2 separate regions of the Homo sapiens genome follow, and region 1 is linked to region 2. The links come from fine-mapping of genetic effects on gene expression. Tissue or cell type: whole blood. Region 2 holds a variant in brackets; the other region holds the start of a gene. Each region is shown on its reference strand, or each on the opposite one.

Evidence for each region.
Region 1: it holds the start of MTCP1, and the variant in region 2 is fine-mapped to the expression of MTCP1 in whole blood (TOPMed, PIP above 0.99).

The regions. Positions count from the first base shown.
Region 1 is chrX:155,060,463-155,075,054 of GRCh38, reverse strand. It overlaps MTCP1 (mature T cell proliferation 1), which reads left to right and starts at 3,919. Exons shown (of 5, transcript NM_001018025.4): 1 at 3,919-4,361; 2 at 8,998-9,149; 3 at 9,266-9,436; 4 at 9,518-9,569; 5 at 9,656-11,021. The coding sequence starts at 9,045. The coding sequence ends at 9,565. CMC4 (C-X9-C motif containing 4) reads left to right here and starts at 3,919. Exons shown (of 3, transcript NM_001018024.3): 1 at 3,919-4,361; 2 at 11,022-11,089; 3 at 13,064-13,433. The coding sequence starts at 11,032. The coding sequence ends at 13,212. It overlaps BRCC3 (BRCA1/BRCA2-containing complex subunit 3), which reads right to left and starts at 3,547. Exons shown (of 11, transcript NM_001018055.3): 1 at 3,405-3,547; 2 at 2,712-2,728; 3 at 1,624-1,678. The coding sequence starts at 3,527. RefSeq lists enhancers at 2,564-3,285, 3,242-3,291, 3,302-3,521, 3,286-4,007, 3,992-4,291 and a silencer at 3,632-3,951.
Region 2 is chr3:14,768,882-14,786,026 of GRCh38, reverse strand. It overlaps C3orf20 (chromosome 3 open reading frame 20), which reads right to left. Exons shown (of 17, transcript NM_032137.5): 16 at 13,826-13,960; 17 at 12,991-13,236. The coding sequence ends at 13,152. Among named protein-coding and RNA genes, the nearest start is that of LINC02011, 34 kb to the left of the region's middle. The variant C/T (reference allele first, on the strand shown) is at 8,713.

The DNA.
Region 1 (14,592 bases), not on the chromosome of region 2:
TTAACTAAAATACACCCTTCAAATTAATTTCATTTATTCCTTTTTACTGTGATTACTAAAAAATTTAAAATTATGTATATGGATCACATTCGTGGCTCACATGATATTTCTTTTTTTGTGGTTTATTTTTGTTTTGTTTTTCAACTGAATACTCCACTTAAAAAGATTATCACACTGGATTTTTTAAAAAGTATTTACCACTAATAAGAGACACAAGAGACACATTTTAAATATTAGTATACAGAAAGGCTAAAAATAAAAGGATAAAAAATACACTATGCAACACTAAAAAGGCAGCTTAACTAATAAAGTTTAATATCTAATTTAGACAGTACAAACTGACATAAAACTCAAGACGAGGGCATGAAATCTTGAATAATAAAATTACATTATTAAGATTGGAATGTATCTTAGTAACTGATGCCCAGGGTGAATTGTTTCTTTCTCTCTTTCTTGCTTTAGTCAGAGATTTCAGTGCCTAAGAGGAATGAGTAATATTTAATGCATAGACAGAGGAGGAAGAGGAGTCCACAAAGGATTGTGGGAAGGGGGAAACAGGAATAAAGGCAATACAACAAAACCAACAAAAACTCATGAGAGTTTAGAGATTCAAGGAGAAAGATGAAGATAAGCACCAGGAAATAATCCACCGAAGGTAGAATTAGAAACCAGACCTCAGTGGGTTTGACTGGGGAAGGTGAAGGAGTAGTAATTGTAGCCCATTCTTTTAAGAAGTCTGGCTATTAAAGGAAGGATATAAGAGTACTGACTACAGGAAGATACGGGATTAAGAAGTAGCTTTCCTTTCTGAAAATGAGAGTAATTTAAGCATATGTTTATCCTAAAAGAACCAGGTGACAGGGAGAAGACCCAGAAAAGAGACAGAACATTTGATAAACAAGGTCTCTGAAGAAGCTGCAGCTTTGGATAGGAAGAGGACTTATTTCTTTGATATGGGAAGAGATGCAAAGTGATTAAGGTGGAGAAGTTTGTAACTAGTAGTAATAAGTAGATGAAGGTGTGGCCTGATAACTTGGTGGGAGGAGGGGAAGTAATTCATTTTTTTTGTATTTTACAAAAGCATCGGTCTGTGACAGACTGGGGGAAACGTTAACTGGTCCGATACCACGATTAGGTGAGAAGCATTACACTAGACCATCAAGGCTAGAGCATGCCACAAAAGATGGTGTAGGAGTGCAGATAGGAAAAAAGTCAAGGCAGACTAAGAACTATGATGCTATGGTCAGTTTGCCTGTTTAAGAAGAGAGGGCTGCATGAGTAGATGTTGGAATTCGAGATAAAGAGGTAATAGTGATGTGAAAGTATCAAGGATGCCAAAGTATCAAGGAAAGTGGGAGAAGGGCCAGAAAACAGGCAGTGACAGCAAGGAGAGCAGCAAGAGGGTGGTACTGACAGTGATTATTAATCTTGATCAAGTAGAGACAATTTGCTACAAAGAACAGAAAATTAGGTCCCATTCCTAGTGAGTAGATTCTTCATCTGATTTTACTAGAAAGAATATCTCATCCAGCCAGAAACCGCATACTCTGGCTGAGATCACTGGATTACAGAAATCTTTCCCCAACTGCAAGTTTCCATCATGCAAAATTTTAGCACACATACCTTTTCAGCAACTGTGCGCATTTCAGTTCCAGTATATGCAAATTTGGAGTCACTCCTACTGGGAATAAATTAGAAAAAAAAAAAGGAAGTGGGGTTTGGAATATAAAAAGGAATTAAAGCAAAATAACAGGATTAACTGTTTTTGCAATGAAATCTTAGCAGAGACCAAAGAAGAGGAGGGAAACTGAATTGAGGCTAGAGCTGCACTCTATCTGTTAGAAGCAATCTGGGACACATGCACAAGTGGCTGAGTGTATAAAGTTATAATGGACAAAGCTAAATTCCTGGAATCCTGGGAACTAAGGAGGTGGGCTTGAGAAGTATACTATGGTATGATTTGAAGTTTAAATTAAAATGTTACCGAAAGGTTTCACCACGTCAAGTATTGAAGCTACTGGGGATCTCTGAGATCACTGAGGTCCATCAGGAGGAAAGGCAATGTCACTGTCAATTTACGTGAAGGAATGGATCAATGGGGAAATGCCTCTAAACGTATATGCTCTCTGTCACTAAGAAAATTACTGATATCTCACTGGCATTTAAGGGGAGACAGAACATGAAATACACTGAGCAAGGCCAGGTGTGGTGGCTCACGCCTGAAATTCCAGCACTTGGGGAGGTCGAGGTGGGCAGACTGCTTGAGCCAGGAGTTCGAGACCAGCCTGGCCAACATGGTGAAACCCCGTCTGTACAAAAAAAAAAGACAGCCGGGTGTGGTGGCGGGCACCTGTAATCTCAGCTATTCGGGAGTCTGAAGTATGAGAATCGCTTGAACCTGGGAGGCGGAGGTTGCAGTGAGCAGAGATCGCGCCACTGCACTCCAGCCTGGGCGACAGAGTGAGGCTCTGTCTCACCCCTAAAACGCAACAATTATGATAATGCTTATTAAGATGTTTATCCCATATCTCAACTGAATAGGAGGTAAGGCAGAAACCAAAGTTCAAGGTTGTATCATTAAGGGAGCCCCGGAGTGATAATGGTAATTAATTTAAGACACGATCCGGACACAATACTGCCAAAGTCGCCATAATTTTAGGTTAACAATGACTTAGAGATTATAAGATATGAGTAAACAAATACAGTCTTACCTTGTATCATCGTTCAACTAGAGTGGGAAAAAGCAAAAAACATTATTGATCACATTACGTTTGTTTGACATATATGGATGCAGATTATATGACAATTAGGTCATGTGTTCACGCACATGGTATGAAAGACTGGAGAATTACTTTAGACTGTAAACAGCTAAACTGTATTTCCTCATCCTCTTCGGCCCCTCCTCAACACAATGCAGCGGAAACTTTTGCTTCCTTCAAGCCCCGCACCTTCTGTTAGGCTCTTCGATACCCTTCAAATGCTTTGGTTGATATCTCTGCTCCCTAGACAGAAGACTCGAGGCGAGGCAAGGGGCTCTAACTGTGGTCAGCTGCTGCGTCGTAATACCCGGACATCCTCATTATACTCCAGTGTCTTTCTGACCTGCCTTGCAGTTTTGGTCAACCGGGCGAAAAGCGCAGATCTAAAGAGAAGCCCCAGGCTACAGGAGAAAGGGCAAGGCTCCCGGGGCCTGTACAGACCGCCGGGGGCTCGCAGGAGACTAAACAAGTGTCAGGCGGCCAGAAGAAACGGGGCTCCCCGCGACAGAGCTATGTAAAGGGTGTCCAAGGACCTAAATCGAGGATGCCTGTGGCCTCCGCAGCCCTGGGAGCTGCCGGCACCCACCCCGGGGACACACTGGGACTGCTCAGCAGGGTTCCATCCAGGCTAACAGACCTACTCACCTCCCCTATGCACAGCCCCATTACTTCCTCCTTCTCTGTGCTCAGAGCGTGGTTGAGACAAACGAGGAAAGCGTCAGACTCGAGATGAACCGCCTGCACCGCCTGCACCACCTGCACCGCCATCTTGGCCCGACCCTTCTCACGTCCGCCTCGGGCCCACTTGGTCCTGACCAACCGGGTGCTGCGGCGCAGCCTCCCCAGCGCCCAGCGCTGTGCGCTCCGCCCAGGCCTGGCCTTCGGCGCGCGGGTTCCTAGGGGGCGGGGCTTAGGGAGCGGGCGGGGCTGTGGGGGCGGGGCTGTGGGGGCGAGGAGGGGGCAGCGGGCGCGCGGCTGGCGCGCGGGGGCGGGCCTTGGGGCACGGGGGCGGGGCCCGCCCAGCAGCACCTGGGAAACGCCCGCGCGGTTTGGGGCAGGCGTGGCCGTCGGGGCGGAGGGCGGTGGCCGGCCGCGGTCCGGGCGTCAGGCCGGGCGGCGGGGGCGGCAGGGAGGCGGCGCTCTGGGGCCGCAGGCGGACGTACTCTGTGAGCGGCGCCCGGGCGCCTGGGCAGGCGCCTCCCGAGTACCGGCGCCCATTTTGCCCGCCCGCTAAGGAGACCCGTGCGCGGCCTACACGCTTGGGGGACAGCCCTTTAAGACGACATCTCCGCGAACGCCGGCCTCTTGAGCCAGGGGGACGCTCTTTTGAAAGTCAGTCCCAAAACAGTTAAGGTTTTATTTTATTTTGTTTTATTTCCAAGTCACAGCCCCCGAATCTCGTACAACTCTCCCTGGACCACTTCCGGTTGCCGGCCCGCGCCTCATAACTTCGGTTCGAGTGACCTCGGCCCGGGATGCCCCTCGGCTCACCCCGGGCTCACGTCGCGATCCTGGCTTGAGTGGCCCAGGGTGGGAGACCTGGAAGTTTTAGCCTAGCTGTTCTCAAGGCGGATTAATTAGCCCAAGAAACATTATATTCATGTGAGTAACCTTTTGCAGAAACAGTGTTATACTGTATCTGAAAAAGTATCACTCTTAAGCTTGGCTGCTGCTACTTTCTACAAAGGCTTTTAGGTAGCTATTTGTTGGATACAGGGAAGGGGAAATGGAGAACTTCAGTTTTTATTCAAGTTCGGATGTATCACATTAGGTATCCAGAATGCAAGTTTCCTCGGGTCTCCTTGTCTCGATGATATCAGACAGTAAAAATATATGTAAAAGTAATTTTTATTTCGAGGTATGTCAAACGTGCCAAGGATAAAAGTACAGATCTTCCAACTCACAAGTCTAGGAATCACACGTGGATTTTGAAAGCGATTCTAAATCAAAGCACAATATATGCCGTGCCGCCTCCACAGCCCGTCCGTGTTCGTGTCTTTGATTTGGTTTTCTACTTTGTGTAGTTTTGAAGCCAGGCAGGTATGGCAGTACTGGAAAGGGAACATTCCCAAGGTGCTACTTGAAGTGTTGATGCTTTGCTCTTTTCTCCCAAGTCAGTTCCAACCCAAGTCTCCCCACACATAGGGTCCCCATCCAGTGCAACGATCTGTAATGTGCACGCCAGCAGCCTCCGTTTTTACCTAACGATCTGTAAGGATCACATGGCACATCTTTCTATAATTAATTTGATCATGATGAAGGTTGGAAAATTTTCGTGTGCAGTTACATTGGACCTGTCTAAATTTTCTCTTGTTTCAATTTTATATCATATGTTATTTTCAGTTACTGTTTGTGGCTAGTATGCCCCGTCCTCATGGAGCAGGAACGGCTGTTCTTATTATTATGACATTAACATTTGGTGATGGGATATAGTGCCTTTAGGCACTTTCAAGAAGAAAAATACCTTTTGTTTGTTATCGGCGGTAGTCAATCTCATATTCCAGAATGAGGTTCACTAACTTTTCTAATGCTCATGGCTGCCTTTTACAGCTCCAGGCATTTAACTGGAGTAGAACAAAATTATTAACATTTATGGCAAGCTTATTATATGCTAGATACTAAGCATTTATATGCCTGGTACATGTAAACTGCCCCATTTGGAGTCAAGCTCAACAACTTCCCCACTGTGTGACCTTGAGCAAGTTACCTAACTTCTCTGTGCCTTTCTTTTCCTCACCTTTAAGTGGGGATGATAATAATTCTGCCCACCTCATAGCGCCCTATGAAGATTGTGAAAATTAAATGAGTCAATATATGTAAACATATAGGAAATGCTAAATAAAGACTATCATGATTAATATGTTCTTTAATTCTCATTTTACACCTCAGGAAACTGAGGTGGAGAGACGTTAACTTGTCCAAGGTCACAAAGCTAGTAAGTGACAGACTCAGGACTCATACACAGGCCTGGGCCTGTGTTCTTGGTAATTTCACTCATTGTAATTGGACGAGTTTATTAATTGACTTCTAATAAAATAAGTGTATTCAACTGATCAATGTTTAAAAACTGTTCATCAACCTGGCAATTAAAGCAAACTATACTTTTTTAAAAAAGACACAAAAGAATTTATTCTGTAAAGGAAAAATGATAGTTTTACTTAGATTACTACCTAAGGAAGCCCTTCTATCTTATATGTCATCCATTTAAAACCTAATTTACAAAATGCCTTACTAAGAAATTGTCTGTCTTGGCCAGTGTGCTCTCTGGCCCCGAAATCAAGGTGACCCTCATGGGGACAATCTCTTCTAGTGGATGATAAAGTTATGCAGTTATCTAAACATTTTTGGAATTCATTTGTATTTGTAGCTGGCAGTATTCCTTGAGTTGAGTTGCACAAGTTTATATTCCATGTATTGTATTGCACCTTGTACCTAAGTCTATGTTGAGGTTTTAAAAGATTCGTCTTAGTTCGAGAAGTCCTGAATTTTGTAAACAAGTATCATGTGCAAATAAAATGTTCTCTAGTCAAATAAATTTGGGAAATGTTAACATAAAGTTTCTTTACTGCATAACTTGCCAGAACAGTTACTACACTAATGTGCTTTATGACTCTCCAAGATTCCCAAACTTATTTGACCAAGGAAAATGTTGGGAGCAAGTTTTCTAAGAATCACATTTTTCCACTCATAAAACCTGTGATTGTATAGGCTTTGATCTGAATCCCTCTCCCTCAGCCTTTGCATTTCTCTGCTGAGGACTTTGTTCATGCTCATATGGTGACTTCTCTGTCCCTTGATCACTGCAGTTGTCTTTCTCTGGGCCTGCATGCCCTCTGAATGCTAGCACACACAATTCCAGGATACTGTGCTGAGAGGTGGTTCCCAAGCTCATCCCGCTGATGCCCAGCATGTTGACCTTTGGGTCACAGCAGCACATCACACTGCCTTTCTTCTGAGAATATTTTGTAGTGACTCATAGGCCTCTTTGTAGTGACTCAGTAACTCAGACCATCATCTCCAAACTCTTTGCCCTCTATTCCACTGGCATTATTTCCTTTTAATGTCAATATAACCAATGCAATTTTGTTTTCCATTCAAAACAAATTTAAATGTCAACATGTTGGTTGTTGCTAGGACCTATCTATGAAATTGAGATGGTCCTGAAACCCTTAACACATGGTTTCCACTTTTTTAAAACAGTTATTGGCCACACTTAAGTCTTCTGTGCTTGAAATCCGAATTTAATATATTTTATTTTGACATTAGTATTTACCAGGTTTTTATTTGTATTTCTCTTTTCCAAAGCTCTGGGAAGGAAGAGAGGCAAAACAACTGTATCTGCAAATGGGAAAAAAGGGGGGCTTTGGAAAAAAATTATATATAGCCAGAGGCTTATGCCTAGAGAATCAATCTCTACCCACGTATACATAGCCAATCATGACAACCACTGTGGCGTTCCTTTGTTTCCCTTCCCTACCCACCATACATATACACCTGTTCACTGAAACATTGCTTGACCAGTACCTGAGACTTGGGGTGCCCAGAACTGTATCATTCCTGCTATTGAGCAGAATACAATACTGTGCTTTAGGGAAGACAGGACTTGTGAAATAAGCAAAGCAAATGTGTAAGGTGACTTTGTTTAAATATAAATGCTACAGTAGTCAAAAGAGGCAAGAATTTTCTAAAGTTTTCATAGAGGAGGCAGGCACCTGGACTCTGCTATAATAGCACTAAGATAGGCAGAGAGGCCCAGGGAGGCATTTTAGGCAAGTGGAAAACAAGAGCAAGGGTATGGAGCTAGAAATGAGCCTGGTATTTGGGGAAAGTTGGTCTCAACTGCAGTGGTAGTTGTAGTGCCTGCTGGAATTGGTGACATATAGGATGTAGCAACTGAATAAGAGGAAGAAATCCAAGATAATTCATAAGTTTTGAGTCTGCAGGATCAGGAATGGTGGTGTTGCCATTGAGAGAAATCAGGATTTGGTTAAAGAGAAAGTTTAGACGAGTTTGAAATGAGAGAGCACATATGTATGAAAACTAAGACAGGAGCTTACACCAGGCTCAGAGTCAGATGCACTCAGGGTATAATGGGTGAAGCATCTGGTTGCTCTCGACAGTCTCACTTTGAGGACTCTAACAACCACCCTCCCACGCTGCATTTCTTTTCCCACCTAATGAGAATAGCAGGTCTTTGTTTTGAGGGGCAGCTCCCCAGTGCCGTATCTATACTCTGGCCAAAGGTAGAAATACAGTACAACTGCGCTATAATGCTCTGAGTAAGGTCTAGAAGATTGACTCATGCAAAATGCACATCAAGTTATTGTGAGGTCCTGAAATGATATCTGGGGCTTGGGCAGAGGATCGTTATAGAGTTTGCCCTACCACTCAAATGCTTTGGGAGGTATGCTTCCTTTACACCTCTCAAATGTGCTTCTGGTCTTCTGGCTTAGGAAGTCAAAATTTAAACCTAGTCCTCTATGGAAAAATGGGCTCCTGTAACATCCTGCAGAATTATTAAAATAAAACAAGGACCTAGATGGATAACTTTCATTTGCACTCACTCAGCTCCAAATCAGCATGATCCCCAAAGTCTCTTGCAGCTCAGAAATTCCATGAAGCTAGCTTACTTTTCCTAACAAGAAAATCCCCTTCTAGAAATGCCCATCCGCTATTTGTAAACTTTCTTAGTAAACTGATAAATAGATCATTTGCCCTTAAAACAAACTTTTAATTTCAACTCTGAAAGACATGCATATATGTCCTTCAGAATCTTACCTTTTAAAATGGAAACTGCTTGGAAGTGGCTTTTACCTGGGGAATATGACATGCATGTGTCTGTTATACTGCCTTCCTGCCAAAATAAGTGTGTCTTTAGGCACGCTCTTTGCATATTCTATTGCTAACTACATTTTGCCAGACACTGCTTGTGAATGCAGTATGTGTGAGACCACTGCCCAGCTTCCTGTAGTGCTAGTCCTACATTTCCACAGAACTCCTCACCTAGCCAAATTCTTGAGCGCTTTGCAGTCAGCAGCACTACCTGAGGCTCTGCCTGAGTGTCACTTTAGTTGTCTTGCAGAAAGCTTCAGATGTCCTTGGTTCTATTTAGGTTGTGCAAATAGACATATGAGGTTTGGTTCTGGTTAGTGGTTGCTAGTACCAGATCACCTTGCTTACTGGTGAGTTCATTCAAACCCAAAAAGTCACACCTGTGTCCTGTGCGCGGGTGCTGCAGGCTTAGGTGGAGAAAAGCAGGGCTAGAATTGGAACCCAAAGCCCAGAATGGCAGGAGAGGATGTGGGGGCTCCACCCGATCACCTCTGGGTTCACCAAGAGGGTATCTACCGCGACGAATACCAGCGCACGTGGGTGGCCGTCGTGGAAGAGGTAACTGTTTACATTTTGCTTATTTCTTTGATTTTGCTTTCAAGTAACTTGGTTTCTATTCCAGTCTCAATATTCTGAAGTCTTTGGTTTTATTTTTGATCATTCCTTTCCATTAGGAGACGAGTTTCCTAAGGGCACGAGTCCAGCAAATTCAGGTTCCCTTAGGTGACGCAGCTAGGCCAAGTCACCTTCTTACCTCCCAGCTACCTCTCATGTGGCAACTCTACCCGGAGGAGCGCTACATGGATAACAACTCTCGCTTGTGGCAGATACAGCATCATTTAATGGTACACATGTTGCTTAATTATTTTCCATTGTACTGGGACTCTCGTAACAGAGTACTCCATAAACTTTTCTTTTTCTGACAGGTCAGGGGAGTACAGGAGCTGTTGCTTAAGCTTTTGCCTGATGACTAACCTGGTATGTATTTCTATTTCTCCTCTGTCCTCCCCCTCTTTGTTTTGGCTCTATTCAGTTGTGGTGATTTTAATGATTTTTTTTTCCAGGTGCTGGGATTCTACGAAGATATGCTCCTTTGTTCTGTTCAGTATTTGGCAATCACTTCATCCACTACTGCAGTGCACCCACCCTTGGGCCTGGGGGGAGGGAGTGGGTTGAAAAACTGCTCAAGAAACAGAAGTTTAGCAAGGGTCATGAAGAATACTGCAAGTGAAACTGCAGAGAGAGGTTACGTAGGCAGAAAGCAAGTCAACAAAAGCACTTAGTCAGGATCCGTAACTTGAAATTGACTCCTTTGGAAATTGCCATAGAACCCTTAATGGACATCATCGGCTGGACCTGGGATCTGATGAATCCCACAAAAGTCAGCACCTTCTACAGAACAGATGCCCTGATCACCAAGGACTTGGTACTGATTTAGAGAGAAGAGAGCAGCTCCTAGCAGCATCAACATCTATTTGTCGCTTATTTGCCCTGCAGCAATTCACCTGCCTTTCCTTCTCCCATCCTGTAAATATCCTAGGTTTTGCTCCAGTGTTTCCCATCCCAGTACTGACCTAATTTGGATCTGCTGAGTATTTAGAGGGCTCTGAAAAGAGATATGCATTGATGAAATTAGCTACAAAGGCTTGTGGGCCTTTTTTTCTATCTGAAATCGTGTCTTCAAATTACTGGAAGTTGCTGATCAAAATTGTGGGCTCTTGAATTCATTCTCTGATTACAGATATTTTAAATAAGCTGGTTTCTATAAGAACTTCAAGAAAAACCATTTTAGCTGCTTAACTGGCACCTTTCTCAGGAAGTAATAACACCAAATATTGCTGATTCCTAGGAAAACATTTACTACTTGTAAAGAATTTCCTGAGTTAAAGTAGTTATAACAGTTTATATACATTAAAAGTAAGGTTTTACTTTAAAAAAAAAAGTCTTGGGAATAATAGCTACCATGTATTGGAGTCCTTTCCAGGCACTATTGTATGTACTTTATATACTTTATCACATTTAATCCTCCTGTCAATGCTTTGAGGTAGGTATGATTCCCATTTTATATATGAGTAATAAAAAAAGCTCAAGGAGTTTAATCATTTATCAAGGGTTTCTTCTGCGAATGATAGAGCCAGGCTGCGCCGTCGGCTCCTCTAGCCTAACGTTGGTTTACAGTATTCAAAAAGAGTTGATTGAATTCAAGGTTTTTTTTCCATGTAAAGCTATTTATATCTTCCAAGCCTAATGAAATGGATATTATAAAAATACAGTTGATTCATCCTATGTTTGGGAAGAGTATTTTTAGTGTAATTATTTTCCAGCAATTGTAAGGGCATATACTGCTTGTCTCAGAAGAAAATTCCACGTAGAGGGGCTTTAAAGTCTTTATGGAAAAAAGAAAAATAAAAATCATTTTTCTTGTTTTAGTTTTCTGGATATGCCGCAGAAGGATCCGTGCCAGAAGCAAGCCTGTGAGATACAGAAATGTTTACAAGGTAGTATATTGTAAAATGCTTTAAAAATATTTTTCCACTGTGAACTAACTATAAGAGACCAATTATTCTTTTATCTGTATTAACTCTTTTTTAAGAATGTAACGTATATGTAATTATCCTGAAGATTCTCTTCATTGTATCATCAAAGATGCAGAAAATAAAAAGTAATGTGATCAAAGCTAGGGGTTTTCACTCCAGGTGATTAGCATCACCTGGAGATCTTTAAACACTTACCTAGAACAATTCAGACTTCCTAGGGCTAGGGCTAGGAAAAAAAGGGTTTTTTGTTGTTGTTGTTTGTTTTTACTAAAAGGCTAGTTTTAAATTGGTTGGTTATACTTCACTGCAGCTGACAATTCACTTTTTAAAAGCAATCTGGAAGAGGTGCGGTTGAAATAACAATTGGAATTCAGGCTGCCAAAGTCATCAACTAACTCTTAAAGGCAGAAGTGAATCTCGACTAAAGCATATTTGAGGTGATTTGTCCATTTGTCCAGCTGCTAAGTTTGACCAAATGTTAGAGGATTTTAGTTTTCTAATCAGTGAATGACTGTTGCCAGAAGAGCAAATAGAAAAAGCTATAAGGCTATCTGAATTTGAAAAAATTTTAATAAGTTTTCCTCACTAGTAAAGTAATAGATGGAGATGGAAGGTCATGAAAATATAGAAAGGTATGAAGGAAAAATGTTCAGAGTTCCCCCAAAGATTCACCACCAAAGAAATCCTTTGTTTGTGTATCTCCTTGGACTTTTAGCTTTCATTCTTGGACTTTTCATTTTTTGATGTTAGCAATATTTTATAAAATCTTTTAGATTAAAATCTGGATGTATAATAATGCCATTTTAGTCAAACTTCTTCCCTCCAACTTTAAGGAAAAGGAAAAAGTTTTTTGCATTTAATTCCTTCTCCCAAATAAAACCTTACCTTGTTTGAAATAACCCATAGCTAAGGGAAAAAAATAAGTTAAAAAGAGCTGGTGACACCCCCTTGGCAGTGTGGGAGGATTAAGAACTGGAAAGACTAAAAGATGACAAGCACCGTTATAAGGACTTTATACGTATTAAGCCTTTCATCCATGAGGTAGATGCTACTATGACCCCCATTTCATAAAGGGGAAAACAGACACACAAGTTATGTAATTTGACTAGGGTCACATAGCTAGTAAGAGGTATGGTGGGAATTTGAACACCCCCCGCCAACCCCGCCCTTGGTCTAGCTCCAAATCTGGACTGTTACCCACCTTGCTATACTGCCTTTCTAATCAGAATTGTCTTTCCTATCCTGAGCTAACTACCATGTACTCCATTTTAGTACTGGGGGACTCATTAACTGCAGCTGACCTAGAGTCTTTAGGTCAGGTCCTCCTTAACTTAGTGTTTATGTATAGTAGGGATCTGCAAATGTTTTATGAAAAAGGCCAAACAAGTAATATTTTAGGCTTTGGAGGCCAAAGGCCTTTGTTGTATATATTGTGTATGTGTTGTGTGTTTACAACCCTTTAAAAATTAAAATCCATTTTTAGCTCCCAGCTGTAAAAACCGGCTGAATTTGACCCTAAGGCTGCAGTTTGCCAATTCCTGATGCACAGCCTTAGTAGGGGAGGTCCAACAATCAGCTTAAACTGTATGCAAAATAATGTGTGGTGTATGTGCATTTTCCTAATTCATCAAATTAGTGACCAGTAATAAAAATGATGTTAAAAACCAATGTCCTAGAAAAAGGTGCATACATGCTATTAACCTTAAAGGAAATTATATATTAAAATAGCTTTCAACCACTTTGTAAATCATACTTTCCCTAACGAACCTGTCGACAGGTCTCTAAATTAGAAAGAATTCAGTGGACTTTGGTATATCTTCTTTCTTCCAGTTCCATAGGTACTGAAAGTGAAAAGGGGTGGGAAGCACTGATCTAAACCTCCCTGTACCTTAGTCCTATGAGATCATGACTAGAGTCTGCCTGTATGTTTTTCAGCCAACAGCTACATGGAATCAAAGTGTCAGGCTGTCATCCAAGAACTGCGTAAGTGTTGTGCTCAGTATCCCAAGGGAAGATCTGTCGTCTGTTCAGGATTTGAAAAAGAAGAGGAAGAAAACCTAACACGGAAGTCTGCATCAAAGTAAAGTTCTTCTGAAGTGCTGCTCCATGTTTCCACCAAATGAATTTTTTTTATCCTCCTGACTCTTCAGGCCAGGTAGCAGCAAATAGCAAATGAAAAAGTCAGCTACAAAAGTTAATGAATATGCCATCTATGCAGAACAGGCAGAAATATAAACACATTAAAAGACAAATATGTAGAATGTAATATACTGAGCTGCTAAAATAAACCTGTTTAAGAGAAAAATTTGGGTTTTGTACTAAATGTATTTTAAGACTATTAGATATAGGGTATTAATGAATTCTCTTGAAGTTCAAGCCACTAGTGCCATTCATCAAATTTAAGTCATATGAGGTATGTTAGGTGAAAGGACTCACTTCCAGCATCACAATTTTGACGCCCTTTTTTTTTTTTTTTTTTTTTTTTTTGAGATGGAGTCTCACTCTGTCATCCAGGCTACAGTGCAATGGTGCGATCTCGGCCCACCGCAACCTCTGCCTGCCGGGTTCAAGCAATTCTGCCTCAGCCTCCCAAGTAGCTGGGATTATAGGCATGCACCACCACGCCTGGCTAATTTTTGTGTTCTTAGTAGACGGGGTTTCACCATGTTGGTCAGGCTGGTCTTGAACTCCTGACCTCGTGATCTGCCCGCCTCGGCCTCCCAAAGTGCTGGGATTACAGGCGTGAGCCAATTTTGATACCTTTTATAGATTACATGCTAAACTAATTCAAAGTTTCCTTTAAACTAACTCATTACCTTTTGTACTTCCAAAAATGCAGAGCAAAAAGTGTCTTTCCAGATGCCAGTAAGAGCATTTCTTTCTGCTTTTGCATCCCCACTGCAGCGACTAACCAGGTAGGAAAGGCATAGAAATGATTCTTGTAATGCTTAATGATCCTTAATTTATCATGAAGGAACTGAAGAAAAAATTTTCATTGGAAGTCAGGTAGGCAGCAAGATAATTCAAACTTAGTTGGTTTATCTATTCTTTATATCCTGATAATAAAAACCTGTTACAGAGGATCCAGACAACATTAATACAAAGCTGCTGAATGAAGCCTGTTGACAGCTGTCAGTCACTTTATGAAGTAGGAGGAGGCAGCATGCAACAGGCCATTTGCTTTCCTCAAATGGATGCTTGAACCACCAAAGGCTGTCCTCTAAAAAAGAAAAAGATGACTAAAAGCAGGAACAATTTCTGCTAGGTCCCTGATGTTAAAATACCATGATTATTTGAGACCAACTGTTTTCTTTAAAGCAGCATTACTCAAAGTGTTTCTAGGAATTGCTGTAACCGGAAGAAAAAAAAAAGGCTTCTCTGGTCAGGTAAGTTTGGGGAATGCTAGGTTGCATACAAGTACACAGGTTAATTTCCTGTCAGACTTCAGAGCTTTCAAAAAACCT
Region 2 (17,145 bases):
TGAGGAGCTGAGACTGACTGATGGTAAGTTGCTGACCATGTGGAGATCCAGCAAACAAGCCTTCGGGGCAGTGGGAGTGGCCATGCCAAGGCCCTGAGGTTGGGGTGGATCTCGGCATGCCCGAAGGACAGAAAGAAGGACACCATGATGGAGAGGGAAGGCTGAGGGGTGGAGTGGAGAGCGGAGGCAGGAAGGTGGGCTCGTGTATATTTTGGTTGCACAGAGAGCAGCCGGGGCTCACCAGCCCAGTGAGGATGGCTAAGGGCTGCCCGGCAGCTGTGGGGCATGGAGTCCCGGATCAGATCCTGCTCCACCACAGATGGGCTGAGAGGTCACGGACAAGGCTTTTCCCCACTCCCAGCTTCCGTTTCCCATTTGAAAATGGACTGCTGGGCATGGGAGGCACCGAGGTGGGCATCACATGAGGCAAAGCCAGGTCAGCTCGGCGCCTGCTCCATGTAGGTGGAAGACAAGCATGGTGATTTCCTCACCTGTACAATCAGGGAGGGGTGGGCTCTGCCTTCCATTTCACCATCAAACGGCCAAGTCCTGGTGTGTAGTAGCTGCTCATTAAAAAACAGCTGACTGAATGACCAGCAACGAGTAAGGATTCCTGTAAAGATACTTGTGTGAGGGAGCAGCGAGGAAAGCCAGCGGGTGGTGTCCACTGTAGAGGGCTGTGCACAGGCAGATCAGCCTCTGGGAACTCTCACTTTTCCGTTTCCTCTCGGGCCCCTCCCTTTTAATTTGCTAAGAACAACCTCCCTGCCCAAGGCTGTACCCTGAATTCTTGCCATAAACCGGTTCTGTACCCAATCCTCAAATCCAGTGGCTTTCAAGCTTTCCTGACCACTTTCTTGAGGAAGAAATACGTTTTGCACAGTGAAGACAAAAGAAAGAACCCACTCCCGGCGTTTGCATGTTCCCTGAGCTCCACTCCTGAACCACTCCTTAACTTCTCACAATAACCCATGTCATGCTGTTTTCCCCCCATGGGCAGATGAGGAAACTGAGGCCTGGAGAGTTAACACACCTGGGGTCATGTGGCTGGACAGGTGGGCTCCAGGGCTTGCATTTTTTGTTTTGCTTTTTTGAGGCAGAGTCTTGCTCCGTCGTGCAGGCTGGAGTGCAGTGGCGTGATCTTGGCTCATTGCAATCTCCGCCTCCCAGGTTCAAGTGATTTTCCCACCTCAGCCTCCCAAGTAGCTGGGATTACAGGTGTGAGCCACCGCACCTGGCCTGGGGCTTGCATTTTTAACCACTATACTCATGGGTGACTGAAATAAAGCCTGTGCTTTATTATATGCAAGGCGTATTTTCTATCCCAGCTGTCTCTTTCAAAATGCGCATCACAACCCACTCCATGGATTTTGCAATTCACTACTGGGTCACAAGCTGCAGTTGGAAACATCCTGTCCAGACCCAGGGGAGGATACGCTGAGATGCAGAATACCAAGGGCATACCAACTGGGCACCTCCTACCTCCTGCTCCCCACCTCCCAGAGCCAGGACCCCTCCCTGTTGTCCTTCCCTCCAACCCCACAGGGCCAGCAGCCGAAACAACCCACTCTCTTTCTCATATGTGAGCTGACAGCTTCGGGGCAGTTCACGTGTCCCCAGCAGCCCCTAAACCTAGGGAAGGGAGAAAGAGGCAGGAGGGGAAGGCCCACCCAATCTCCTTCCTGGAAGGGGAAAGTCATTATGATGCAGCTGGCAGGAGCTGGCTGGGCTTTTATTTCCCAAGGCCTGAGCTGGGGGCCAGAGGAGATTGCTCACAGATAGGGAGATGCTGCTGCTGGGGCTGATGCTTTATTCCTGCTCCTGCTCCTGCTCCTTGGCCCGCAGCCAAGCCACTTAACCCTTGAGGGAGCTGCAGACTGGAAGCAGCCCGCAGTGGGGTGGGCCCTGCTGGAGTGCAGGCTGGCATTACGGAAGGCAGGGGGAGCGCCTTAATCATTTTATTAATAGTTATTCTCACTTATGTTTAGTAAGCATGAGCTAAATCCTTTCTCTGTATTATCATATTTAACCCACCCAATATCCCTGGGAAGTTGCTTATTGGGATCATCCCATTTTATAGATAAGGAAGTGGCAGTCCAGAGACCAAAGTTGCTTGCCCATAGCCTCAAGGCCAGAGTGGGGGGCAGTGCAGGGAGAAAGAGGTGTTGTTAATATTTATTGAAGGGGTAAATATTTGAGGGTTCTGGGTGGGGGTGTTGGGGGTTTCAGCAACCTGCAGCCACGTATCTATTCTGGATCTTTGTGGCCTAGGAGGACATCCCAGGCCCTCTGCAGAGGGGCCCCATCCTCTCAGGCACACTGTCTTTTTCCTGCCTCAGTCCATTCCTGGCACCTAATGCCACTGTTTTTTATCCATCATCTGTGTGTTTTGAGACCTTGTGTTGCTGTGCCTGCAGCCTGGCCTGCTGCTTTTCACTATGAGAAACCAGCTTTATAGGTTGCACTTGCATCTGGCATCTTGCTGAATCTATGTCAGTTCTAACAGTTTGTCTATTGACTCTGTTGGTTTTTCTAGGTAGATGATTAAATTATCTTCAATACTGACAATTTTATCTTTTGCTCTTACATCCTTGTACCTGTTTCAATTTCTTTCTGTAGAGTGTTGAAGAGCTCTAATATATTTTGGACAGTGGTGTTGAAGTAGTATCCTTGTCTTTTTACAGGGAAGATTAAAACATTTAAAGTGTTTCCATTGCTGGGCACGGCAGCTCATGCCTGTAATCCTAGCACTTTGGGAGGCCGAGGCGGGTGGATCACCTGAGGTGAGGAGTTCGAGACCAGTCCGGCCAACATGATGAAACCTTGTCACTACTAAAAATACAAAAATTAGTCGGGCATGGTGGCAGGCGCCTGTAATCCTAACTACTTGGGAGGCTGAGGCAGGAGAATTGCTTGAACCCGGGAGGCAGAGGTTGCGGTGAGCCAAGACTGCTCCATTGCACTCCAGCCTGGGCAACAAGAGTGAAACTCCATCTCAAAAAAAAAAATAAATAATAATAATATAATAAAATAAAGTGTCTCCATTAAGAAAAATATTTGTTGTGGGTTTTTCTTATATAAACTTCACTAGGTTAAGAAAGTGACCTTCTATTTCCAGCTTGCTAGGCTTTACCTAATAAATTTTATTCACCAGTCGAGATAGAATTTGATTTTTCTTATTTAGTCTATTAATATAGCGAATTATATTGATTTATTTTCTGACATTGAACTGTCTTGGCATTGCTAGGATAAACCTTACCTGACATAATGTATTATTTAAAAAAATAAATATACCATCGGATTCAGTTAGCTAATCTTTTATTTAGAATGTTTGTACCTACATTCATCAGTGAAATAAGCAATGAGATTTTCATCTTCTCTTCTTTGTATTGACCTTATCTGATTTTGAGGTACACTAGGCTCAGAAACCACCCAATTGCCCATCTACAGTAGAATGGAAAAATATATTGTGGTATAACTGTACAGTGAAATTCTATAAACCAATGCGATTGAATGAACTTCAATCACATACAACAAGGATGGATTTCATAAACATAATGAATATAAAAGAACCCAGACACAAAAGAGTGCACAGTATGTGATGCCATTTGAATAAAATGTAAAAACAGGCAAAACTAACCTATGGCGGAGGCAGGTGATGATTTGCTCTGGATTCTAGTCATGTGCTGTGTTCGTCTATTCTTGCACTGCTATAAAGAAATACCTGAGACTGGGTAATTTATGAAGGAAAGAGGTTTAATTGGCTCATGTTTCTACAGGCTGTACAAGCATGGGGCCAGCATCTGCTCAGTTTCTGGGGAGGCCTCAGGAAGCTCTTATTCATGGCAGAAGGCGAAGGGGGACCAGGCACTTTGCATGGTGAAAGCAGGAGCAAGAGAGAGTGGGTGGGGAGGTACCATGCTTTACAAAAACCAGATCTCACGAGAACTCACTGTCTTGAGAACAAGATTAAGCTATGAGGGATCCCCCACCATGACCCAAACACCTCCCACCAGTCCCCACCTCCAACACTGGGGATTACAATTCAACATAAGATTTAGGCAGGGACAAATATCCAAACTATATCATAGGGGTATGTTTACCTTGACAAATTCATTCAGATGGAGCTTAAACACTGTTTACTTTTCTATATTTACATTGTACTTTGACAAAACTTACATAGAGCTTTATAAAATAAAATTTGCTATTTTTAGGAACAGCTTATAAAACACACACATAAACAGTTTTTTGTTTTTTTTTTGAAACATGGTCTGGCTCTGTCTTCCAGGCTGGAGTGCAGTGGTGTGATCTCAGCTCACTGCAACCTCTGCCTCCCAGGCTCAAGCCATCCTCTCTGCTCAGCCTCTGGAGTAGTTGGGACTACAGGCTACCATGCCCAGTTAATTTCTGTATATTTTGCAGAGACAGGGTTTCACCATGTTGGCCAGGCTGGTCTTGAACTCCTGAGCTCAAGTGATCCACCTGCCTCGGCCTCCCAAAGTGCTGGGATTACAGGCGTGAGCCACATGAGCTATTTTAAACTCACCTGTAAAACCATATGGACCTGGGTTTTGGGATGTGCGTGTGTGCACGTGCACACGCATAAGACTGACTGCCGTTTCCATTTATTTACAATTCCAGGTTTTTTCCAGTTTTTGATTTCTTTTTGCAACAATACTGGTGTTTTTTTAAGAAACATATCCATTTTACATTAGGGAGGTAATTGATATACCAATCAAACCCAAAAATATCAGTGGCTTAACACAATGAAGTTTATTTCCCGCTCTTGACATTGTCCGTCGTGGGCTGGGGAAGGGCTCTGAGAGCCAGAACTCTCCCATCTTGTGGGAGCATTAAGAGCTCAGAGTCCTCCACTGGCGCTTCTGTATCCAGCATTCTTCCCTGCGGACAGCATGGGGGCGCTGCGGGGTTAGCTTTTACAGGCTGGGCCTGGAGGTGGTGAACTTAACTGCCACCCACATTTCATTAGCCAGAACTTAGGCACCTGGCTGCAGATGAATCCATGGGAGAATGGGAAGTGTAACAGGGCTGTGTGCCCAGAAGGAAGGGAAATCATTTGGGAATACACGGCAGGCTTTGCCCCAGGTTTCATCTAGGTTTTCACATTTATTGTTGTCTGATTGTTCATAATAATATTTTTAAAAAGATCTTTATTTCTCTTTTTTTCCCAAGCTGTTATATATCTTTCTGGGGGTCCACTTATTAATTCATTTAAAGGACTAGTTTTAGGGTTTGGTCATCTTCACCATTTCATTAACGTCTGCATGTCTTTCTTATTTTTAGCCTTTTTTGGCTAAAAAAATAGCCAAGTAATAATAATAAATGTACTTAAAGCTCTACATTTTCTTCCAAATACTGTTTTAGCTGTGTGCCACAAATTCTGACATTGTAGCATTTTCATTATCATTCAATTCTAAATATTTCTGAATTTCCTTTAGGATTTCAATTTTAACCAAAGACCTAGAGTGTTAAGACATTTTTGTTATTTGTCTCTAACTTCATTGCATCCTACTTGGATAATATAATCTGTAAATTCCTCTGGATTGAATGAGGCTTCCTTTATGATCTAATATATGGTATATCTTTTACAAAGTTCCACAGGCGTCAAAAAAGAATGTGGGTTCTCTATATTTTAGGTAGATTCACATACACGCAGTCAAGCTCACTGATAGCATTATACAGAACTTTGATATCTCTGCTTATTTTTTGTCTGCTTTATTAATTTCTGGGAATGGTATTTTTAAATATTCACTTCATTAGCTGGATGCAGTGGTGTGTGCCTATAGTCCTACCTACTCAGGAGGCTGAGGTGGGAGGATAACCTAAGCCCGGGAGTTCAAGACCAGCCTGGGTGATATAGTAAGACCCCGTCTCTTAAAAAAAAAAATAAGAAAATTCATTTTAAGTTGGTTTTATGTTTTTTTTTTTCTTGATGTATTTTGAAACTGCATACATCCTGGTGCATTTTCATTCTTGTTCTATTGTTTCTCTTACCCCTATATAACATCTTTCTCTATCCTCTATATTTTTGGTTTAAATTATATTTTGTCAGATATTAGGATTGCTATCCTAGCTTTTTAGGTTCATATTTGCCTGGTATATATTTCTAGTCCTTTATCTTCAATATTTATGTGTCTTTCTATTTTGACTGTCTCAAGTAGACAACATAGAGTCAGATCTTGTATTTTTAAACCTAATCTGAGAATCCCTACATTTTAAACATTTTAACAGCTTTATTGAGATATAATTCACATACCACACAGTTCACCCATTTAAAATGTAAAATTCAGTGATTTTTAGTATATTTACAAAGTTGTGCAACCATCACCACTAATTTTAGAATATTTTCACAATTCCAAAAGAAATTCTATATCCATTAAAAATCACTCCCTGTTTCTCCTGCCCTCCAGTCCTAGGCAACTACTACTCTAGTTTCTGATTTTATAAATTTGCCTATTCTGTATATTTCATGTAAATAGAATCATATAATATGTGGTCTTTTGTGACTGTTTTCTTTGACTTAGCATAATATTTTCAAGGTTCACCCATGTTGTAAAATGAATCAAAATTGTATTCTTTTTACTGCTGAGTAACATTCTACTTTACGGATATACCATAATTTATTCATCTATTCATCAACTGATGGACATTTGAGTTGTTTCCCCTTTATGGCTATTGTGAATAATGCTTCAGTGAACATTCATGTACAAGTTTTTGTATATGAAAGTCTCTATTTTTTGATTGGCAAGTTTAACCCATTTACATTTATTATACTAACCTTATATTGAGACTTGTTTTTGGTATTACTTTTTTACTTTTTTTTTTTTTCCTCTTCACTTGTTTCCCTTGGACAAACAGAGTATTCCCGAGCAGTCAAAAAGTTATACATTCTATTTTGGTCTTATGGTGGGTGCCATTAAGACCAATTTTATACCTGCTTATTCCTATTGATGCTTATGCTTATCAGTGTCTACTTTTCCCCTAAACAAGCTAAATACTTTTTCACACTGCTATGTCTCTTTAGTATCTCTACTCCTACCCCTACAGTTTAGAGTACTTTGCCTATAACTCTTTAAAGATATTACATTCTTCTCACTTCTAGCATTGCTATGAAAAATCTGATGTCAGCTTGACCCTTGTTTCTTTGTAGGTGGTCTGCTTCTCTCTGGTATCTTTTAGAGATTTTTTTTTCTCAGATTTCACTGTAATATGTCCATGTGTAGGTTTTTCCTTAACTCTTCTGTTTGGCACTCTGATTAATTTTACCCTGAAGTCTTTCATTTTTCATAATTATGGCATATTATCTCCATTATTTTTTCAAATAATAGTTCCTTCTCTACATTTTTATTTTTTTTTACCCTCCAGGACCCTTATCATCTGGGTTTTGGTACTTTATTTTTTCTCCACATCTTTCAGTGTTATATATATCTGAGCTGTGGGTTTTGCTCTGTTACCCAGGCCAGAGTGCATTGGTGTGATTACAGCTCACTGCAGCCTTGACCTCCCAGGCTTAAGCAATCCTCCCACCTCAGCCTCCCGAGTAGCTGGGACCACAGGCACACCACCACACCTGGCTAATTTTTAAATTTTTTGTAGAGACAGGGTCTCACTCTGTTTCCCAGGCTTGTTTTTATATTTTATACATAGTTAACCTTTCCTGATTCTGGGAGAGTTCTATAGTATAGTCTTCTAATCTATTAACTGGCTCTTCAGCTTTTGTCTTATATGTATGATGTTCCTCATCAGCTGCTCTGCTTATGTGTTTTGGGGAAGAATGACAAGCCAAGCCCCAATCTATGTCAGAGCTGGTAAACGAATGAGCCCCTTTACCCCAAAACCTTTGTTCCTCACTCAGATTTATTGTCACTCCACTAGGCAAATTCCCTGGCTAGAGTATGACCTTAAAAATCCCTGGGGGAAGCAGCACCCACCATCAGAGGGGGCCTCTCACGGCCTTGTAATCAGTAGTTTGGAGGGGAAAAGATGGAGCATTTATTTATTTATTTATTGAGATGGAGTTTCACTCTTGTTGCCCAGGCTGGAGTGTAGTGGCGCGATCTTGGCTCACTGCAACCTCCGCCTCCCAGGTTCAAGCGATTCTCCCGCCTCAGCCTCCTGAGTAGCTGGGATTACAGGCGCCCGCCACCACACCTGGCTAAGTTTTTTGTATTTTTAGTTGAGTCAGGGTTTTAGCATGTTGGCCAGGCTGGTCTTGAACTCCTGACCTCAGGTGAATCACCTGCCTAGGCCTCCCAAAGTACTGGGATTACAGGCGTGAGCCACCACATCTGGCCAAGATGGAGCTTTTAAATGGTCAAAGGCACCTGGGAGTTATCATCTGCTTTCGTCAACACCTTAATGGCAAAGCCTTTGCTGTCCTTCAGTATTAACCCCTGCATCTGCACCAGTGGCCTGGGCTGCTGCTGTTGCTGCAGTAAAGAGGCAGGTAAAGACCGCCCCAAGGCTCTGCTGAGGAAAGGCAGGGCAGAGCTGGGGAAGATTTCATACAGCTCTCTTCCACTGCACCCATCTCCTGTCCTCCTCAGGCTGCAGCCACCCACATTTTCCCCTGCAACCAAACCAGTTTTAGACACATTTAGTCTTCCAGGTTTTTCTTAAAGGGTTTAGTTCCTGGTGTCCACACTTGCTTCACAGTTTCTCTGGGGCAGGGAAGGAGCCAGCAGTTCATGT[C/T]GGCTTGCCAGGTGGGTGAAAACCAGGCTGCCTTTGGTGGGTGTTTATATCTTGCAGAACAGACATCCTGCTGGTTCTAGCTCTGGCCCTATTCATCTTTGGACCTAGGGGTTCTTGGGGAAATTTCTGACTATGGTTTTTGGGATTCAGCCTAAAAATCCCATCTTATTTCAACAGAAGATTGCTGAAACCTGCCTGTGATTTCACTTTCCCAGTTTCAGGCCTTGGGACAGACATGCAGAGGTGAGGGACAGTGACTGAGCCTCTCTCAGGCTTTGGGTGCAGGCTGAGCCAGCCCAAGCCCTCCAACCACTCCTCACAGAATGGGTCTGCCACCTGCTCCTCACCCTGGGCCTTCGCACTGCTCTTATAAGAAGTGTGACTAATAAGAAACCATCAAATGCTCTTCCAAAGTACTTTTACCATTTTGCACTCCCACCAGCAATGTATGGGAGTTCTAGCTGCTGCACATACTTTCCAGTACTTGGCATTTTCAGTTCAAAAAAAATTTTTTTAGCCATTCTAATAGGTTTCTAGTAGTATCTCATTTGTGGTTTTAATTTGCATTTCCTTAAAGACTGATGACATTGGACATCTTGTCATTTTTTTTTAACCATCTATATATCTACTTTTGCAAAATGTATGTTCAAATATTTAGTCCTTTAAAAAAAATACAGGGTTTTCTTCCTGAGTCGTAAGAGGTCTTTATTCCAGAAATTTGTATTTTTCTCCCAGTTTGTGGTACACCGTTATATTTTCTTAAAGTGTTTTTGGAAGAGAAGTTTTTAAGGTGAAGTCCAGTCCATTTTATTTTTCTTTTCTTTTTTTCTTACTGTCCTAGGAAATCTTTGTTTTAAAATCACAAATATTTCCTTATGTTTTCCTCTAGAATTGTTGTAATTTTAGCTCTTAAGTACAGGTCTATGATCCATTTTGAATTAATTATTGTGAGTGGTATGAAGTAAAGATTGATTTAATTTTTCCCAAACAACTGTCTGGTTGTTCCAGCACCATTCCTTGAAAAGACCACCTTGTCACTTACGCTGATGAGACAAGTGCTTACCACCTGGTTTCCCCTCCTTCCTCTTGTGTTTCAGCCCCTGAAGATTTTTCCTATGACCTTGTGAGTTCCCATATGTAATTAAAGGGGTATTTAATTTATGTTATCCAGTATTTCTAGCGTTTTCTAACAAGATGGTGTTTTCAGGCCATTTAGTGCGCAGTGTTGCTGGAGACAGAAGCCTCGCCCTTGTTTCCCTCCTCTAGGTCCTGGATGCACCTCCACAGGGAGGGGTGGGAGGAGACCTTGCCCGCTGCTGCCGTGTGCTGACTGTACCGCCATCCTTCCTCTGGGCTTCAGTCTCCTTTTTTATAAAGTGAGGGTGAGGTGGGAGATCAGCAGGACTTGTCTTCCAAGCCTTGGTCACTGCCCTGCTGATGGAAGCATAGTGTAACAAGAACAACAAAAAAGCCGGCCCAAACCAGCTAGGACCATGATGGTGATGAAAGCAACCTCTAGTTGCCCTTGTTGCTCATTATATGCTAATTATAATACATTTGCATAGGCCACTCACAAGTGCCACGATAGTTTATGAATGATGCCATAGCAACACCCTGAACGTTACCTTACATGGTTCCTGGAACTCCCCGCCCCTTTTCCAGAAAGTTCACAAATATCCCACCCCTTATTTAGCATATAATTAAGAGTGGGTATAAACTAGCCCTGCTCTGTCTATGGAGCAGCCATTTTGCTGTAGCTGTTGCTGTAATAAACTTGCTTTCTTTCACTGTGGGCTGCCTCCTAAGCAAAGCCAAAAACTTTCATGAGTTGAGCCCCAATTTGGGGGTTCACCTGCAGATCAAGGGGTCAGACACCATGATTCCTGGGTTTCCTCCTTGCCCTAGTTTTCCTGGACGCCGAGTCTATTCATGGGTAGTCTTGCCCTCTCCTGGGCCTTCCACTGGGTCAGCCTGAACAAGAAAGGATTCTCAGTAATAAGGGGAGACCCTGCTCCCATTTCCCAGAGGCCATGGGCTGCTGACCATTCCATGTCTCCCTGACAGGCTGATAACCTGGGAGGTGAGTAATGGGATGCCGCCTACTCAGACACAGGTCACACACAGCAATGCCTCCTAACAAAACCCGCCCTGTAGGTTTTAGCTCTAGCTGCACCCTCTCTTCCTCCGAGGAGTCTTCCTAAAAACTGAGTCTTGGCTAGAGGAAAGAGCTACTCCGTGGATGGAAGAGACGGGAAGGTAGTTGGTAGGGGCTGCCTGCAAAGACTGGGGGTGAGGCAGCAGCAGATGTGCCAGGGTTTGCCCTAGAGCATCCATGTGCATCGGGCCACAGCTTTTTCCTTAGAGAGGCTTGGACCTCCCTATAGCCAAAACGACAACAGAAGGAAGCCTGAAGAGTCCAAAAACAGTTTATGGCTCAGTTCTCAGTTGATCGAGCACCTTTCCATCGTGCCTGGTTTGTTGGGGGCATCTTTGAGGGGTGAAGCCTTATCCTGCTCTCCTGGGGTTTCCATGGAGAGGGGCTTCCCCTTTTCTCCCTCCTCCCTAAGGTACATTTGATTCTGCAGCCCTGGACATTCGCTGGGCCTGTTCCACCAGTGGGAGGCGTCCCGCTCACGAGCAGCTCATTTTTGCCCCTTTCAGTGTGGTGAGCCCCGTGGGCAGGGCCAGGACCTGCCCTTCAGAGACAGGTCTGTGTGCACAGTGCTCGCGGCTGTTGACATGCGCATGCAGACTGCTTGGCATACCCACGCAAGCACTCCTGAGCACACGGCCCACAAGGCAGGTCTAGGGTGGCAGGGCAGAGGCTTTGTTTCAGGCCCTTGCCTGAGCCGAGGTCTCCATTCCGGCCTTTACCAAGGTCTTGCCTTAGGGGCTGGAAGGTGCCTGCCTGCAAGGACAGAGGTGGAACTTTCTTTCCCTTGCCTTCCAATCCTTGTCTGTCCTTGTGCTCAGGAGGGGAGGAGGGGAGAGTGGATAGAGCCCCTGGGACCCATGATAAACATCAAGGTCCTTAAATATCAAAGATACAAGCTTACGAATATCGCAAGCCATTTCAAATTCATTTCTAGAAGAACAAGTGTATAATTCAAAAAACATTTTTGAATGATACAAAGGATAAACATTAAAGCTTGAAAAATTCAGATTAAAAAAGCTTATATTACAGAGGAAGCATAAGCATTTCTAAGTGCAACATCTCACTAAATGCTGCCTGCAGCTCAAGGCCTGAGCTCTGCTCTGGGCTGGGAGAAAAAGGTAGACCTTCTGGAGTCCTCAGCTGCTCCTGGAAAGGGCTCCGGTGAACCCAGACAAGACAGCCCAGTGTCGTGGGCCCAGCGCAGGGGTTAGGACGAGACAGCCCAGAGCCGTGGGCCCAGAGCAGGGGTTATCTCTGTCCCTCACAGGCACCCTCAGGGACATGGGGAAACTTAGCACCCCAGAGGGACTACTGTCTTGGGCCCCTTGATGCTGGCAAGGATTTCTAAGGCCTGTGGCTCAGGAAAGAAGCCCGAAATGCACCAAATGGCACTGTGGCTGGGCTCAGTGGGGATGTCTGCCCCCAGGAGGCCACAGGGCTCTGGCTTTCAGGGCATCACTGAAGGGTCCCTAGGGGTGAGCACTCTGTCATTAAGTCTCCCAGCCTGCACCATTCTCATCTTCCTCAGATCCCCCCTCAGTGATTTCTTCCCCATCACCCTCTTAACTCCCTCCTCACTCCACACTTGCTTCTTCCTGCCCCTCCCTCCTTACTTGTTCCCCTCCTCCCTCCCCTCCTTCCTTACTTGTTCCCCTCCCCCTCCCTCCTTGTTTATTCCTCCTACTTTTCCTCTCTCCTTCTCCCTCCTCCATCTTCTTTCTTACCCCCTCCCCTCCCCCCTCACTTTTTTCTTCCTCTCTCTCCTTGCTCCTCCTCTCATTTCTCCCTTTGTCTCTTCTTCCCTGCCTTTGGCCTTTCTCTCTGCCTCTTCACTGTTCTCTTCTTGCTGTCTTTCCCACCTACACCATAGACTGAGCCTCCCTCACCCAGGAAGGGTATAGGAGGCCCAGTTCAGTCCCATCTGGGCATCCTGGGGGTTACTGGGTCACCTATCCTCGCGCTACCTCTTGGAGGTAGCTTCCTTCCTTGAGTGTGGGAGGGCCTCAGCTGACTTAACTGGCCGCAGAGGAAGTTCTGCATCGGGGGAACCGAGTTTCCAAGGACGTGACCTGGGACAAGTCTGCTGGGGGCCTCTAGCCTCACAGAAGACAGAATGAGCTGGGTCTGTCCTTCCCCAGAGCCTCACCCCAATGCTGGAGGCCCGCTGGTTTATTATAGAAGCTTGGAGGACAGGGTGGGAGACCGGGGAGGCAGGGCTGGGCTGGCAAGAAGCCCCAGCACCCCGGGCCGGGGCCTGGCTCACTTGGCTGCTGCCAGGATGGCGCTACTTCTTGGAGGCCTGCTTCTTCCAACTAGTTATCTTGCTGTCCCTGCTGAGAGGATGTAGCTCCACTTCAGGCTCTCTTGTCCTAAAGATCAAAATAGAGGGCCGGGAGGCGGAAGGGCTGTTCTTCACAGTGCCCAGAGCCCAGGCCCGGTTGGGCCAGGAGGGGCAAGGCCCTCTCCCTTGCACAGGTGAGGCTGTTGGGTGCTGTTCCAACCAGAGGGCCCCGGTGGCACCTGCGACCTTTCTACATGCTCCTAATTTTGCTTTTCTATCTTCATGAGAAATATGTGATTTCCACGCCATGCCGAATGTGTGATTCATTTCATGGTTACCAGCACCAGCAAGTAAGTGGCCTTTAACAGGTGCAGCAAGTTTCTTGCAAGGAGACAGCGGGGCAGTCTCCACCCTTCTCAGACTAATGGGTCTGGGCTGTGGGGTTCTGCTGCAAAGTCTACAAAAGGCCTCCATCTCTACCACCCAGACCACTGCGAGCAGCTCCAGGGCAGCCTGCATGCCCGCCCAATATTGTGTTGATTACATGGGCTAGATGTCAGCGATGGTTGGACATGACCCAGGCCACGCCTGGGGGTAGTGACTTGCCCAAGGCCAAATAGCCCCGAGGTGGCCTGCTGTGAGCCACGCCCATTCTGGCAGCTGATGTGGTCACCTACTTCTCAGCCTCCAGAGATAACTCCTTCTCCACATAGTCTTCCAGGGCCAATGAGGAGCTGCTTCCTTGGATATCTTCTGACTCGGCTTTCTTGACTGATTCAGAATCCTCCAGGCTCAGGACAGAGTTGGGAACACTGCAGGGGAGGCAGGGTCGGGGGCAGTGCTCAGGGCCCAGGGTGCACTGCACGCTGTCCCATCAGTGTTCTGGGAGCCTGGACAGACAAGGACACAAGTGCTTCTCCTCCTGAGGGCAGCGAAGGGAGACTCTGACCTCCTTGGGGACCCAGTGACATGCTGGAGGTTGGCTTCCCTGGCTTCTATTTTGGGCTGGATTAGCCCTAACCCAAATGCTGCTACACTCGCACCCCCAACACTGACCATAGCAAATGCCTGCGGTGGGGCGGGAGGGCTCCGTAAGTGACCACAGGAGAGATGACAGGGGGCAAAGGAAATGTGTCATCATGTGTGGTATTGTGGGCTGAACACATGTCCCCCAAATACATATGTAGAAGTCCTAAACCCCAAGACCCCGGAACGTGGCCTTATTTGGAAATAGGGTCGCTGCAGACATCATTAGTTAAGATGAGGCCATACTGGAGGAGGGTGGGTCCAATCCAACATAACTGGTGTTCCTCTACAAAGGGGAAATTTGGGAGAATGCCATGTGAGGACTGCAGTTCTGTGGCCATAGGCCAAGGAGCTACCAGGAACAGGGAGCAAGGCCTGGGACTGAGCCTCCCTAGCAGCTTCTGGAAGAGCGTGGCCCTGCCCACAACTTGGTCCAAGCTTCTGGCATCCAGAACTGTGAGAGGATGAATTTCTGTTGTTTCAGCCACTCAGTTTGGGTCACCTTTGTGTCTTAGGCTGTTCGAGCAGCTATTACAAAATACCATAGGCTGGGTGGCTGTGAAACAACAGAGGTTCCTCTCCATTCTGGAGGCTGGGAAGCCCGTCATCAAGGAACCTGCAGATTCAGTGCCTGGTGAGGACCTGCTGCATCACAGATGGCTGTGTTCTCATAACTTCACACAGGGAAAGGGGCGAGGGTCCTTCTGGAGCCTTTTATAAGGGCACTAATCCCATTCATGAGGGTTCCATCCCATGAATCACCTCCCCAAGGCTCTGCCTCCTAAACCATTGCCTTGGAGGTGAGGATTTCAACACATGAACTTTGGGGGGCACACTTTCAGACCACAGCCCCTTGTTACAGCAGCTCCAGCCAACACAAACGTGGCTATTCCTTACCTCTGTGCCACACCTCACAGCTTTGCAGCCATTCATTGTCAGTGTTTCTGAGTTACGGGATGTTTCTGAGATTCACAGCAGCCCTGGGAAGCAGGCAACTCTGGGACATTTGTCCCATTTTCCTGACAAGGGCCCCGAAGTCCAGAGAGGTGAGTGGGCTTATTCACGGGCACATAGTAAGTCAATGGCAGAGACAGGACTGGCCCATGTATGCACTGTCTAGTCACTCGGTCATATTTACTGAGCCTCTACTATGCGTCCGGCCCTGAGGAGTTTACAACCTGGTGGGGGTCATGGGTAGCAGTATCTGGTGCTGAAGAAAGGGGCATGGCTTGGGGAGGGGGCTTGAGGTAGCTCTGGGAGTATGTGGCTAAGGCTGGGCTGGGGACAGGAAGTGGGTGTGGAGGGACTGTCCAGGCAGGGGCCATCCTACAAGGCCTAGAGCAAGAAACAGTGTTTACGGGCTGTCTAAATCTGTTTTGTTTGTATAGATCAAGCAAGGGAATCACAGGTGACTTGCTTAAGGCCAGGGCCTTTCAGAGACAAGAGGAGACACAGCCTACTCCGTCATTTCAAGGGCCCTAGAAAAACTAAACACCAAGAAATGCCGAGACCGGGCCTCAGAATCTGGGTGTATGCACAACGTTTACATGTGGCAAATTAACGCCTCTTTGCAGCCCCTTACCTCCAATCCGGCCTCACAAGGAGCACACACACTAAACTAAGCTGACCCTTTAAACGCCTCTCTTAGAGGCCTGCCTGAGGCCCTTTGAGAAGAGGTGGACTGTGGAAGTGTCTGGGCCTATGGTCCAGTCCCTGCCATTCTCAGGGGGCAGGGTGGAGGGCAGGAGACGCAGGGTAGGCTGATGGGCTCCTCCAGGGCCCCCCTAGAGCCCCAGCCCAGGGTGGATGTGGAGGAGGTCCCAGCAACTCTGTTTGGTGTTGAGTGCTTGAGGAGTGCAGGGGAAAAGGCTCGGAAAGAAGCATGGTCCCCCTCACCTGGACATTTCATTCTTTCTTTCATTCATTCCCAGAGCACCTCCTCCCTGAGCTCAGCTCTAGGACTAAATACCTATAGAAGGCCCTGAGTTCACAGCCAGCCCCTCCGTCCCAGCAGTTGGGAAATGTCCCCACCCTGGGTACTGGCCTCCTCCCTGTTCTCCCTGTCTCCAGCCTCACCCTCTTCCATCCAGTGCCCCTACCCCGCGCCCCACCAGAGGGCTGGTCCTCCTTGATCTGGCCTTGTCTCTCCCACTTAAAGCCAGTGTGTGGTTCCCTGATGCTTGCAGGGGTAAGCTCCAGCCCCCACGGCATGACGCCTGCTTCAGGGTCTGTCAGAATCTGCTGATCCAACTAGAGACCCAGTCTCCTCACCCTGTGCCCTCCCCACTCCCCTGCCTACCCCTCCTGCCTCCACCTAGTCTCTTCCTGCCTCTTCTGAGGTGGGCAAGGGGCAGGGGTGCTACCAAGTGGCGCAGCTGTAAAGAGCTTCCCCTCCCATCTGGATAGCATGTTACAGATACATGGCCCAAACTATCAGCATGTTTTTCTAACAGCCTGTCTTGGTGGCTCCCCTAAATCCACAGCCCTCCTGCTCACAGGTTCCTGCGGTGCACTGAGCCCTTGCCTGCCCCAGCCCCTCCTGAGTGCCTTTTCCCTCTCCTCCTTTGCTGGGCCTTCTTCTTATCCTTCAAGCCAGCCTCCCAGGTCCCCTCCTCTGCCAAGCCCTCTGAGCTCTAGCAGAAGGTGAGATTTCCTCCACCGTCCCCTCTGCCTCCGTGCTTATTATGGTGCACTGCTCACAGCTCTATGAATTTGCCCTGCAAGTGCCTCAGCAGGATTTGGTCTCAGCGCCTTGGCACCTCCTGTGTCTGGCTCTTAGCCAGGCATGAGTGAGTGAATGAACGAATGAACCAAATGATGGGGACATCAGAGGATCGTGAACGACTAGGCCAGCAGAGCCACACAGCTGTCCTGCTGGGGTGACAGGAACACATGTCCCTGCTGACAGTGGGCCAGGTGCTTCTCTGGAAGACTAATCTAGAGGTTGATTCTGAGACCATCCTTGGTCAGG